Regions from separate parts of the Homo sapiens genome. Here all the other regions are reported to be linked to region 1. The links are microRNA targets in miRTarBase. Many come from high-throughput screens and were not tested one by one. Region 1 holds a microRNA gene; each other region holds the end of a gene's coding sequence.
Evidence for each region. The annotated mature microRNA hsa-miR-4668-5p reads AGGGAAAAAAAAAAGGAUUUGUC and lies in region 1 at 2,384-2,406, shown strand. An mRNA with a match to its seed (bases 2 to 7 or 8) in the 3' UTR can be bound and repressed. Matches are read on the target gene's strand: a 7mer-m8 pairs with bases 2 to 8, a 7mer-A1 pairs with bases 2 to 7 and ends in A, and an 8mer does both.

Region 1 (4,247 bases):
TAACTTCTGTTGGTTTATTCTTTTTGTTCAACCTATAGATTAGGGCTTTTTAATTTAATTTTATTTTTTTTGCTAGTAAGTACAGAATAGGTCAATAATTTTATTATTTTGTTTGTTTTTGAGACAGAGTCTTGCTCTGTCACCTAGGCTGGAGTGCAGTGGCGCGATCTTGGCTCACTGTAGCCTCTGCCTCCCGGGTTCAGGTGATTCTCATGCCTCAGCCACCAGAGCACCTGGGACTACAGGCATGTACCACCATGCACACTAATTTTTGTATTTTTAGTAGAGATGGGGTTTCTTCATGTTGGCCAGGCTGGTCTTGAACTCCTGAACTCAAGTGATCTGCCCACCTCGGCCTCCTAAAGTGCTGGGATTACAGGTATGAGCCACCACACCCAGCAGATCAATAATTTTATAGAGTAATTCATATTCTAATTATAGAATTGTAGATATGTACTAATGAAGAAGGTAAATGTTCTGATTCCTCTACATTTTTCAAATTAATGTGTTTTAAAGCGATTAAAAGTAAGTTTCTCTGTGTTTAGAATTTTTACTATATAGATACAAATTTCTGTGTTTTAGAAGAATTAAAACTATCAGTGCAGTCATAAACTAGTAGGTGAAAATTTAAAGACTATCATTTCAAAATTTGAAATTTGTCAGTGAATTATATGATACTTTGCTAAGAAGCCACTGAAAGATTCATATGACTGACTTAGCATTTCTCTATCACAAAATACTTGTTTTGTTTTGGTTTTTTTTTTTTTTTTTGAGACAGTCTCGCCCTGACATCCAGGCTGGAGTGCAGTGGCGCAATCTCGGCTCACTGCAGTCTCCGCCTCCTGGGTTCAAACGATTCTCCTGCCTCAGCCTCCCAAGTAGCTGGGATTATAGGCACCCGCCGCCACACTCAGCTACTTTTTTTTGTATGTTAGTAGAGGCGGGGTTTCACCATGTTGGCCAGGCTAGTCTTGAACTCCTGACCTCGTGATCCGCCCGCCTCAGCCTCCCAAAGTGCTGGGATTACAGGCATGAGCCACTGCATCCAGCCTAAAATACTTGTTTTTAAAGGAGATCACTGCCTTGTGTGAGAATTCTTTTAAATTTTTTAAAAACTGAAGTGTGTTTTAAATACAAATTCTGTCATGATTGTGTTCATGTGGTTCATGGTTTCCTAGTGTCTCCCATGAGATCCATAATGCCACTTTCTGTTTACATGTCTTGTTGTTTGGTTAGTAGTCATCAGAGACTAATCTATTAAATATGGAGCCCTCTCCATTTTTTTTCAAAATGACTGCATTTTAAGTTTCTTAAATTGTAAAGTAAGGTGGGTACAGTTTCTTCTAGTTCTTAGATGGTGCTGTCACGGGCCAGCATAATTGCTAAAACATCCATACGTATGGTAGACCTTAAGTCATGTGCTAATCATGAAAGCTGGGCTCACCCTGAATACCGGCAGTTGCCTGGTCTTTATAATGATTACTGAATGCATAACCAGTTACGCTTGCATGTGTTCATCATCATAACTTATTTTCTAATTATCTTAATTTTCAGAGGTTGGAGGTTTGCAATGTCCACTCAAGTTGCAATGCAAAACTCTGGCTCATATTCAATTTCTCAGTTTCAATCCAGAATGATCAGGTAAATCAACTGTTTTCTTTTTATACTTCGTTAAAAGGAAAGTGGGGAGGGGGGTGGTAATTTTTACAGGTTTAATGTAGTTAAATGAATGTACCTAAAGGTTGAAGATTTTTGTTTAGTTGCAGAAAATAGAGTTTAACGTCTGTGTTTAAGATAAATTTAATGTCTAAATGTATTTTATTTGCTGTATAACACTGAAAGCACTCATTAGAGAAATGTTGAGACTGAATTTTTTAATATGCTGATCTTTATTTTCTAACTTTCTGTGCTGATTAAATTTTATTATCTGTATTCATCAGAGCGTAGGCCATACAAATGAATTTAAAGACATTTTTCTTTGACATCCTAGACAAAAATAGAAAAGAGAGTCATTAAAAAAAATTTTTAGGTTGTGTGTGGTGGCTCACACCTGTAATCCCAGCGCTTTGGGAGGCCAAGGCGAGAGGACTGCTTGAGCCCAGGAGTTTGAGACCAGCCTGGGCAAAATGGTGAAACCCTGTCTCTACAAAAAATGCAAAAATTAGCCAGGTGTGGTGGCGTGTACACCTGTGGTCCCAGCTACTTGGTGGGATGAGGTGGGAAGATCGCTTGAGCCTGGGAGATTGAAGCTACAGTGAGTGCCACTGCACTCCAGCCTGGGTGACAGAGCAGAACCCCGTCTCAAGTAAAAAAAAAAAAACAAAACAAAAAAAGTTTAAAGAGAATGGTCTTTCTATCACAGGGTAAAAAAATTGATTATTTGAGGGAAAAAAAAAAGGATTTGTCTTGTAGCCAGGATATTGTTTTAAAGAAAATCCTTTTTGTTTTTCCAGGTGGACCAAACTACGAATTAACATGCTTCCTGCTACAATAATTTGTGAGCCAATTTCAGAATGCTTTGTTGCCAGTTTAATTATTGGATGGGCAGCCCACCATGTGTTCAGATGGGATATTATGGTATTTTTCATGTGTCATTGCCTGGCATGGTTTATATTTGACTACATTCAACTCAGGGGTGTCCAGGTATGTGGATAGGCATGAAAAGGTTGGCAGTCCCTTGGTGGAACTAGAACTATTTCAATTTAGAAAAAGTTGAAGGAAATGTATCTGAGCCATTCTTCAGCTTCCCATTGTAGGTTAGTCTCGGGTTTGAACATGACTTTCTCTAGTGGAATGTTGATGCAAAACTTAAGTCGATTTGCAACTTTCTATTGGTTATATAATCGCTTTTATTAAGTTTCCAAAAACATGAAGTTAATTAAATCAGTGAGTATTGAAACTAATAAGACATTAAGATAGCAGTTATTTTAATGCTTCATTAACAATTAGCATTTTCTTGAACGGTATAACATGGCAGTTAAATTACATAAGGAAGCAGACTTGATTTTACATAGTATACTTAGAAAAGTGAAATCCAAGAATTTAATTTTTTAACCTTGTCTTTAGTTTGACAGTGAGTGAAATTAAAAAATTTTTTTTTCCATTCCTAGGGTGGCACACTGTGTTTTTCAAAACTTGATTATGCAGTCGCCTGGTTCATCCGCGAATCCATGACAATATACATTTTTTTGTCTGCATTATGGGACCCAACTATAAGCTGGAGAACTGGTCGCTACAGATTACGCTGTGGGGGTACAGCAGAGGAAATCCTAGATGTATAACTACAGCTTTGTGACTGTATATAAAGGAAAAAAGAGAAGTATTATAAATTATGTTTATATAAATGCTTTTAAAAATCTACCTTCTGTAGTTTTATCACATGTATGTTTTGGTATCTGTTCTTTAATTTATTTTTGCATGGCACTTGCATCTGTGAAAAAAAAAAAAAACACATCTGTAGTCTTGGCCAAATGATACACTTTATTTTGTGGAAGTAGAGAATCAAGAGAATTGGTTCTAGGAACCTGGGTTCGTTCATCATTGTTGTTTATTTTTTTAAAATAAATAAATAAATATATATATAGATGCTCTGCAACAAACTCTGTGACAGTATCCTTCAGTAGAGAAAGTTTCTTACTTGTGAGTACACTCTTTTAGAACATTTACGGGTGGCAGCAGCTTTGCTTTAGAGTTTAGAAGATAATAGAAGGAATGACTATTCATGTCCAAAGTGAATGGTTTTGTGCAGTGAACAACACATGGCGAGGTACTAACTGAGAAACTTTTTCATGCTTTATGCCTACCTCTTGTAGTTGTTGCAGAGCAAATATAAATTGTAATAAGATAGCTAGGCCTTGCAGAAACAAACAGAAAAACTTAAAAAAAAATGATATAAGAGCTGGAGTCTAGTATTTATATGAATCTGTGAGAGATAATTTTTTTGGTCTCACTGCAATGAACCAAAAGCGGCTGAGTTTGGTTTTTAATTGTAGCCATGTATTGAAGGCATCTTTTTGACCAACTCTTGTTGGTTCTGTCTTGAACCATTGTTAATCACTGTGCTGTAATTAGTATAGCTAAATCTTTTCCTTCCTTGCTCCTCCCCCAGCCCACCCCGTCTTCCCTTAACATTTTTTCAGGGGGGGTTGGGAGTGGTTTCATTTTAGTGTGAGTGGATGTTTTGATAGTTGTAAGGAAAAAATGCATTTCAGACACATTTCACACATGAGCTATTTTCTTACACAGTA
Region 2 (4,247 bases), not on the chromosome of region 1:
TTCTTACCTCGTCCTTCAAAAAAAATTGTTCTATATTTTTAAAAAATATCAAATTGCCTTTTTAAATGCCTCAACAGGCTTTTTAGTAAAACTGCCACAAATAACAGTCTGAGCTTATGCATCAATTGTTGAAGAATCAAAATCTTCAACTTTTGTTTACACCTTTAGTCAGTTTAATACTGATCCTGGACATCGAGAAACCAAATGGAAAATTGTCATCTCTTAGTCAAAATTACTGTGAAATAGTACCATATTCAGGGGACATGAAGTGATGTGACTAGTAACTGTTTTATAGCAAGCGCAGAGGTGATGTTTATAGAGCTATTTCTTGTCTTAACCATGCGCCAACTCCTCATTGTTCCTTCTGCTTCCTTTTGCTTAAGGTACGATATATGAAGGAGCTTCCAACATCCAGTTGAACACCATTGCAAAGCATATCGATGCAGAATACTGACGTCTATAGGAGTGGGACCCCTCCCTGGTGTCACTGCTGTAAAATTTTAAACGGTTGTGTCTTGTTGGGAGTAAGTGCCTTGCGTGGGAATAAACTTCCACAGCATTCGAATATTTTAATGAAGCCCTTAGTCAGGGTCCTGGTGTTGGCCTTTTTGGTTTTCTCTTTTCAGGCTGTTTAACTTAGGCACAGGAGATCCACTTTTAAACTTGGGAAATAAGCACCTGTATTTTTTTCCAAAACTGTTTTTAAAGCTGTATACGCATACATATATATATTTTTACTCTGTCTTACTCTGTCACCCAGGCTAGAGTGCAGTGGCGCGATCTCAGCTCACTGCAGCCTTGACCTCCTGGGTTCCAGTGATTCTCATGCCTCATCCTCCCAAGTAGCTGGAACTACAGGTGTGCACCACCATGCCTGGTTCATTTTTGTGTTTTTAGTAGAGATGGGGTTTTACCATATTGCCCAGGCTGGTCTTCTGGCTTCTGGATATCGCCCACCTTGGCCTCCCAAAGTGCTGGGATTACAGGGATGAGCCACCGTGCCTGGCTGGGTATTTATATTATCATTCTAGTTTCAGAGTATACAGAAGTTTCATCCCATCATTTGGAAAAATAAAGGCATCTGAAGTACAATATTACTTATAGAAATAGTTTATATTCCTATTAAATCTTAATCTTGTGGCATCAGGGAAATATTTGTTACATAGTAGGCAATTTTTATCCAGTACTTTATAGATTCAACTCTAAGTTGCAAGCGAAGTCAAAACTGATGAAAATTTATTTAGAAAAATCTAAAAATTCTGGTTTTAAATATGAGAATCAGTGGAAAATAAGGGTATAATTTTGTAGGTCATATGATTGAAGAAAATATTATTTTAACAATGTAAAGCAATATGATTTGTTACTATAATTAACCTGTATAAAAGATACATTTTATGGTGGTTTCAGTAGGTCATTTTAAAAACCAATGTGCATTAGTTTTCAAGTATAAGGTTTAAGTAATTTGGTTTAATAATCAGAAAATATTCAATACAGTGTTGGATATTCTGTCATGCACTATTTTTCAGTTGACAATTTCTGTATTTTAATTGAATACTGTTTCTTCAGTCATGGTTATTGCACTTTATCCTGAATAATAATTCAGAAATTGGGTTTTGGTTCAGTGATTCTCAAGAAAAAGATCTCTTGCCCATTAAGAAGTGTATCAAAATCTCATAAGGAATGAGGGAGAGAAGGGGGCTGTAGAGTTTGAAAAAGCATATTCAATATTAAAATAGTTTTATATTTGGGAAGGCAAAAATGAATCTATTGTTTTGCAATATAGGTTATAAACAGGCAAAATGCAATAAAATATATATCTGGTTGTATTAGTCTGTTTTCACGCTGCTGATAAAGACATACCTGAGACCAGGAAGAAAAAGAGGTTTAATTGGACTTACAGTTCCACATGACTGGGGAGGCCTCAGAATCATGGTGGGAGGCAAAAAGCACTTCTTACATGGCGGCAGCAAGAGAAAATGAGAAAGAAGCAAAAGTGGAAACCCCTAATAAACCTATCAGATCTTGTGAGACTTACTATCACGAGAATAGCACAGGAAAGACTGGCCCCCATGATTCAATTACCTCCCCCGGGTCCCTCCCACAACACATGGGAATTCTGAGAGATACCATTTAAGTTGAGATTTCAGTGGGGACACAGCCAAACCATATCATTCTACCCCTGGCACCTCCAAATCTCATGTCCTCACATTTCAAAACCAATCATGCCTTCCCAACAGTCCCCCAAAGTCTTAACTCATTTCAGCATTAACCCAAAAGTCCGCAGTCCAAAGTTTCATCTGAGACAAGGCAAGTCCCTTCCACTTATGAACCTGTAAAATCAAAAGTAAACTAGTTACTTCCTAGATACAATGGGGGTACAGGTATTGGGTAAATACAGCCATTCCAAATGGGAGAAATTGGCCAACACAAAAGGGTAACAGGGCCCATGCAAGTCCAAAATTCAGCAGGGCAGTCAAATTTTAAACCTCCAAAATGATCACCTTTGACTCCACGTCTCACAATCATCTCTCTCAAGTTCGAAGTTCCACAAATCTCTAAGGCAAGGGAAAGATGCTGCCAGTCTCTTTGCTAAAACACAGCAAGAGTCACCTTTACTCCAGTTCCCAAAAAGTTTTTCATCTCCATCTGAGACCACCTCAGCCTGAATTTTATTGTCAATATTGCTATCAGCATTTTGGGCAAAGCCATTCAGCAAGTATCTAGGAAGTTCCAAACTTTCCCACATTTTCCTGTCTTCTTCTGAGCCCTTCAAACTGTTCCAACCTCTGCCTGTTACCCAGTTCCAAACTTGCTTTCATATTTTTGGCTATCTTTTCAGCAATGCCCCACTCTACTGTTAGCAGTTTACTGTATTAGTCTGTTTTCACACTGCTGATAAAGACATTCCTCAAGATTGTGAAGAAAAAGAGGTTTAATTGGACTTACAGTTCCACATGGCCGGGGAGGCCTCAGAATCATGGCGGGAGGTGAAAAGCACTTCGTACATGGTGGTGGCAAGAGAAAATGAAGAAGAAGCAAAAGTGGAAACCCCTGATAAACCCATCAGATCTCATGAGACTTACTATCATGAGAATAGCACAGGAAAGACTGGCCCCCCTGATTCGATGACCTCCCCCTGGGTCCCTCCCACAACATGTGGGAATTCCAGAAGATAAATTCAAGTTGCAATTTCAGTGGGGACATAGCCAAACCATATCACTGGTGATGCCACTTCTTCAGTATTAGGGATTCTCAGTCAGAAGAGACCCCCTGTGTGGCCTGAGTCCCCTCAGGAGGAAGGTGGACAACAGAGAAATGAGAGTTTTGATATTTTCTGAAAGAGGAACATGTGTTAGAGATGAAGAATCTTCCAAGGCTCATGCAGTTGCTTAGAATAATCATTACTGTTATATGAGAAACATTTTAGTAATTTAATAAAAGGATAATGTTTATTTAAAAAACCTGACTTTTCCAGAGTAATTTTGTTTTGCACATTCATGTTTATTGAAGTGGACTAATTTCTATAATGCAAATCAGAGTTAAATATTAAAAATTGTGTAAATACAATTGACATAGGAATTACATTAAAATATTAGGAAGAAACAAGGACAAATTTAGACCTTGAATCCGAAGAGATAAAGCTTACTTGACTTTCAAATGGAGAGATGATGAAAACCCACTCATTCACTCTTTCAGAACAAAAAGACAGTCATCTGATAAGAGTATGACATGGATGAAATGCCCTACAGGGGCCTTGGACATCTTTAATTTCTGCGATTATGTGAAAGAGGTGGACTTTACAGATAATGGAGCAGAAGCCAACATTAGTAAAAGGAATCCCAACTTCTTCCCATAGAATTAGAAACATGTGAAAGTACAATAAACTTCTTGTTCAAATTACCAGCATCAGAGAGCTTCCCATTTGCATCTAGACCTTGAATTTATATTTATTGATCAAGTTCTAATTTGTATGTATATTTTGTGCATATTCACCAATAACAGTTAAAATTAATTATGTGTTATAGTTAATATATGCACCTACCTTCTTCCGTTAGTGCATCAGTAAATGTGTTATTTTGTCATTTTTCCAAAGAGAGTGTTGTAGGTTTTCCCTGTAGTTCTTCCTTTATAGCTTTTCTTCTGATAACCATGACTTCAGGAGCTTTAAAACTATCTATCTTGCATTTGTGTCTGGCGGAGAACTAGCCATCAGCCTCCTGAAGCCTGCCATCATTGTTAATTTGAGG
Region 3 (4,247 bases), not on the chromosome of region 1:
AAATGATTATCTTTAATAAATATGTGATAAAATTTAAAAAAAGCAAAACAAAACTTCTAGAGAATACCTTCAAAACCTTGGTGAGGGAAATTCTTAAACAGCACAAAAATCATTAGGAAAAGATCAACTTTAACATTGTCAAATTAATCAATGACTTCTCTTCCTCAAAAGACATCAAATGGGACAAGGTATTTGTAACACATATAAACAAGGATTTATATTTAGCATATATATAAATAATTTCTATAAATCAATGTTATATTTCAATAAAACAACTGAGATGAGAACATACTAAAATGTAATTATGTGTTTTATCAATTCAGTCTTTATACTTGTTTCCAAAGCAATCCATGATTTTTATTTATAATAATTTTTGTGTCTTTATAGGAATCCAGTTGGTGGAAGAATTCAATTGGCTATTGCCATTGTAATCACACTTTTCCCATTTATCTCATGGGTCTACATATATATTAACAAGGAAATGCGGTCCTCTTGGCCAACTCACTGCAAGACAGTAATTTAAATAAATTCAAGAACTTCGTTTTTAAAATGAATATTTTCAATCAATTTTTTATAAACATTAGGGGAACAAGCCAGGAGTTTATTTCAGGTAATTTGGGCTAATAGTTTTAAAACTCCAAATAACTTTTTAAGGGTGCATATAATTCGATGTAAGATTGGATGGGACAAGTAAGAGATGGTCTGATATTTTCCAGACGACTTTCTGCAGGGTCTTGTGTCATAATGTAGTGGAAAAGGCTAGAGAATAGAAGTTTAAAAATACGAGTTCTAACTTAACTTTGTAACTATGTAATTTGGGCAAATATATAAACCTCCTGGTGGATATTTATCTATAAAATAGGATTAATGCCAGATCTACTTACTTACACAGTAACAAGGATCAATCTAGATAATGTAAGAACACTCTGAAGATATAAAGTGTTTGGAAAGATTACGGAGGGCTGCCCATGATTAAAATAGAGGGGAGCAGGGATTGGGTAATATACTGAAATAGACATTCAAGAGAGGGCTATACCCCGATCTTTTTTTTTTTTTAAGACAGTCCCACTCTATTGCCCAGGCTGGAGTGCAGTGGCATGATCATGGCTCACTGCAGTCCTGACCTCCCGGGGCTCAGGTGATCCTCCTACCTCAGCCTCCCAAGAAGCTACGACTACAAGTGTGCACCACCATGCCCGGCTAAATTTTTTTAAATTTTTTGTAGAGGCAGGGTTTCACCGTGTTGTCCAGGCTGGTCTTGAATTCCTGAGTTCAAGCGATCTGTCCACCTTGGCCTCCCAAAGTGCTGGGATTACAGGTGTGAGCCACCATGCCCAGTCCAGCCCTAAACTAATCTTATCCAGAGCTGGCATAGTGCAGTGAACTAAAGGAGAACTCTAGATGAATCAAATGAGCAGGCATGTCTTGGAAAGAAAGGGAAGCTGGATAGAATAAAGGAATTAGGGACCAAACAAGAAGGCAATAGGGACTATAACTACATTCTAAATGAGAAATAAGGTCAAAATCTATATACATTCTTTATAAATGGATGTCCAAAGTAATCCTAGGGAGGAGAGCTTTTTTTTTTTTCATTTCCATTTTCATTTAAAAATGGATACTTGATTATTGGAAAACTTACAATTGTGTTTGGAACAACTTGGGTATTTGAATCTAATTTTCCAATTGCAAATTTTATGATACCTAAATACAGATAAAGTATTTCCAATGAAAATTTAGTGTCCAAATGAGTGGGGCTATAAATGTAAAATACACTGGATTTTAAAGACATGGTAGAAAAAGAACAGAAAATATTTTTTGTATTGATTACATGTTGAAACAATATTTTGGCTATAATGGGTTAAATATACTATTAAAGTTGATTTTATCTGTTTCTGTTTACTTTTATTTACGTGGCTTACATTGCATTTCTGTTGGACAGTCCTGTATTTAAGTATCTAGATGGCAACATTTTACATACACAAGCATCAAACTCTGTGGTCAGATACTGTTTTTTCTGATCTAGGAAAGAGATCTGGGAAATACTTCACTCAAAAAGAACGAGTAGTGCCTTCCACAGGTTAGGAGAGTGTAAATGAGTCTGGTAGTTTGTCTATTTTTATTGTCTTTATTACTATAGTAAATATTCTATAAATATTTGTTAAAGGAGGTATGTGTATTTTGTTTTTGTTATTGGCACAGTGGCCACTGAATGGTGAGAAATTATCTAAGATTAAGACTTGAATGAGTAAAAAGGGGGAAAACAAATCTAGTTGATATTAAAACAGTCAAAGTGAAACTTAAGGGTCAGTAAAATACACATAAAGGATTTGAGTTTTCCAGTGTATATTTTGCTTACATATTTGTGGCTTTTATAACTCCTTTAGTATTAATAAACTACTGAAGTCACATGCAAAAAAAAAACAGACTCATTTGCAAATTCCCTGTGGGCTCTATCCATTGACCAAGTCATGTTTACTTCTGTGCTTAAAGACAGTAATGTTCAAGATGTGCTTTCATCATGTATGCCTCTCCCATATCAGACTACGAAATTATGTGACTATTCATAGTCTCTTTCGCATCTTCAGTTAAGCATATAAAAGGCACTTTTGGTGGAATAGTCTTTTGAAGAGTATTAATGAAATTGAATTTAAGTATTATTATTAAATTTAATATTTCTATTATTAAAATCTTTTTTTTTTTTTTTTGAGATGGAGTCTTGCTCTGTCCCCCAGGCTGGAGTGCAATGGCGCGATCTCAGTTCACTACAATCTCCACCTCCTGGGTTCAAGTGATTCTCCTGCCTTAGCCTCCCAAGTAGCTGGAACTACAGGCACCTGCCACCATGCCCAGGTAATTTTTGTATTTTTAGTAGAGACGGGGTTTCACCATGTTGGCCAGGCTGGTCTGGAACTCCTGACCTAAGGTGATCCACCCACCTCGGCCTCCCAAAGTGCTGGGATTATAGGCATGAGCCACCATACCCAGCCTCTATTATTAAAATCTTTCACACCTTCACATTTTTCTTCCATTTTTCTCTATTTCACACAAATCTAATCACGTATTCCCCAGCTCAGAAAGCCCTAAGGGCTCCACACTATCTGGCAAGTTAAATTCTAACTCTTGGCTCATCATTCAAGGCTCTCCATAATATGGCCCCAGCCTGTCCTTTTCTGCCATATTTCTTGCCACATCCCCCTTCTCCCAGCCCGGCACCTTTCTGGTGAATCGTCACAGCATGACTTGCCATGTCTGACTTTGGCATATCCTTCAATGCCTCTGCTTTTGCTATTTTACTTGATATACTCTTCCCCACTTATTCAAGCCATTTTTCTTCATTTTGCATGTCATCCCCAATCCCTTCGAACAAAATTAAATTCATCCTCCATGTTCCCTCAGTCCTTTCTTTGTGTGACAGCAAATTTCACACACTTGAATCATGGATGTCTGTCTAATTCATGGTAAGGTCTATGAGTGCAAGAGTACATTATAGTCACCTCTGTGGTCAGCTGAACAGTGGCCCTCAGAGAGATACATGTCCTAATCCCTGGATATATGTTACCTTATATCACAAAATAAATTTTGCAGATGTGATTAACCCACCCTGAGATGGGGGTTACCTGGATTATCTGGTTGGGCCCTGAATGTTACCACAAGTGTCCTTGCAAGACGAAGGCTGAAGTAGATCTGACTACAGACAGCAGAGAATATGATACGACAGTAAAGAAAGATTTGAAGATGCTACACTGCTGGCTTTGAAGACAGAAGAAGGGGCCATGAGCCACAGAATGCAAGAAGTACAGCTCTGGAGGCTGGAAAAGGATTCGTCCTAGACCCTCCTCAGGGAGCATGGCCATGCCAACACCTTGGTTTCAGCCAAGTGGAAATGATTTCAGACTTCTGACCTCCAGAACTGCAAGAGAACAAGTATATGTTGGTTTAAGTCGCCAGGTTTGTGGGAATTTGTTACAGCAGCCATAGAAAGCTAACACTCCTTTATATCCCTATAGTGCCCATGTATTCAACAGGCATGCTTATTTCTTATAGTTGTTTAGGCCCTGAATCAAACTTTCTCCACACCTGAATAGTCCCCATTTGCCATCTAATGTTTCTACACATAAGCCTTAGCATATATGAAAACGGTGTTAAACATGTCCCATTAGTGTATAAAGGGAGTCAGTGTAAATTTATTTACCTGCTGTAGCTTCACACAGCAATGGCTGGTGGCCCAAACAGACCAGGCCAGGTGG

Region 2: miRTarBase lists ACADSB as a target of hsa-miR-4668-5p. Seed matches in the 3' UTR shown: 7mer-A1 at 2,737-2,743 and 7mer-m8 at 4,107-4,113.
Region 3: miRTarBase lists TMEM220 as a target of hsa-miR-4668-5p. The part of its 3' UTR that is shown has no 7-base or 8-base seed match.

What each region holds. Positions count from the first base shown.
Region 1 is chr9:111,929,717-111,933,963 of GRCh38, forward strand. MIR4668 (microRNA 4668) reads left to right here and starts at 2,384; the gene lies at 2,384-2,453. UGCG (UDP-glucose ceramide glucosyltransferase) reads left to right here. Exons shown (of 9, transcript NM_003358.3): 7 at 1,555-1,641; 8 at 2,454-2,643; 9 at 3,111-4,247. The coding sequence ends at 3,281.
Region 2 is chr10:123,053,312-123,057,558 of GRCh38, forward strand. It overlaps ACADSB (acyl-CoA dehydrogenase short/branched chain), which reads left to right. Exons shown (of 11, transcript NM_001609.4): 11 at 384-4,247. The coding sequence ends at 454. Among named protein-coding and RNA genes, the nearest start is that of ACADSB, 46 kb to the left of the region's middle.
Region 3 is chr17:10,711,729-10,715,975 of GRCh38, reverse strand. TMEM220 (transmembrane protein 220) reads left to right here. Exons shown (of 6, transcript NM_001004313.3): 6 at 388-2,681. The coding sequence ends at 523. It also overlaps the pseudogene MAGOH2P. Among named protein-coding and RNA genes, the nearest start is that of TMEM220-AS1, 16 kb to the left of the region's middle. RefSeq lists a silencer at 2,834-3,034.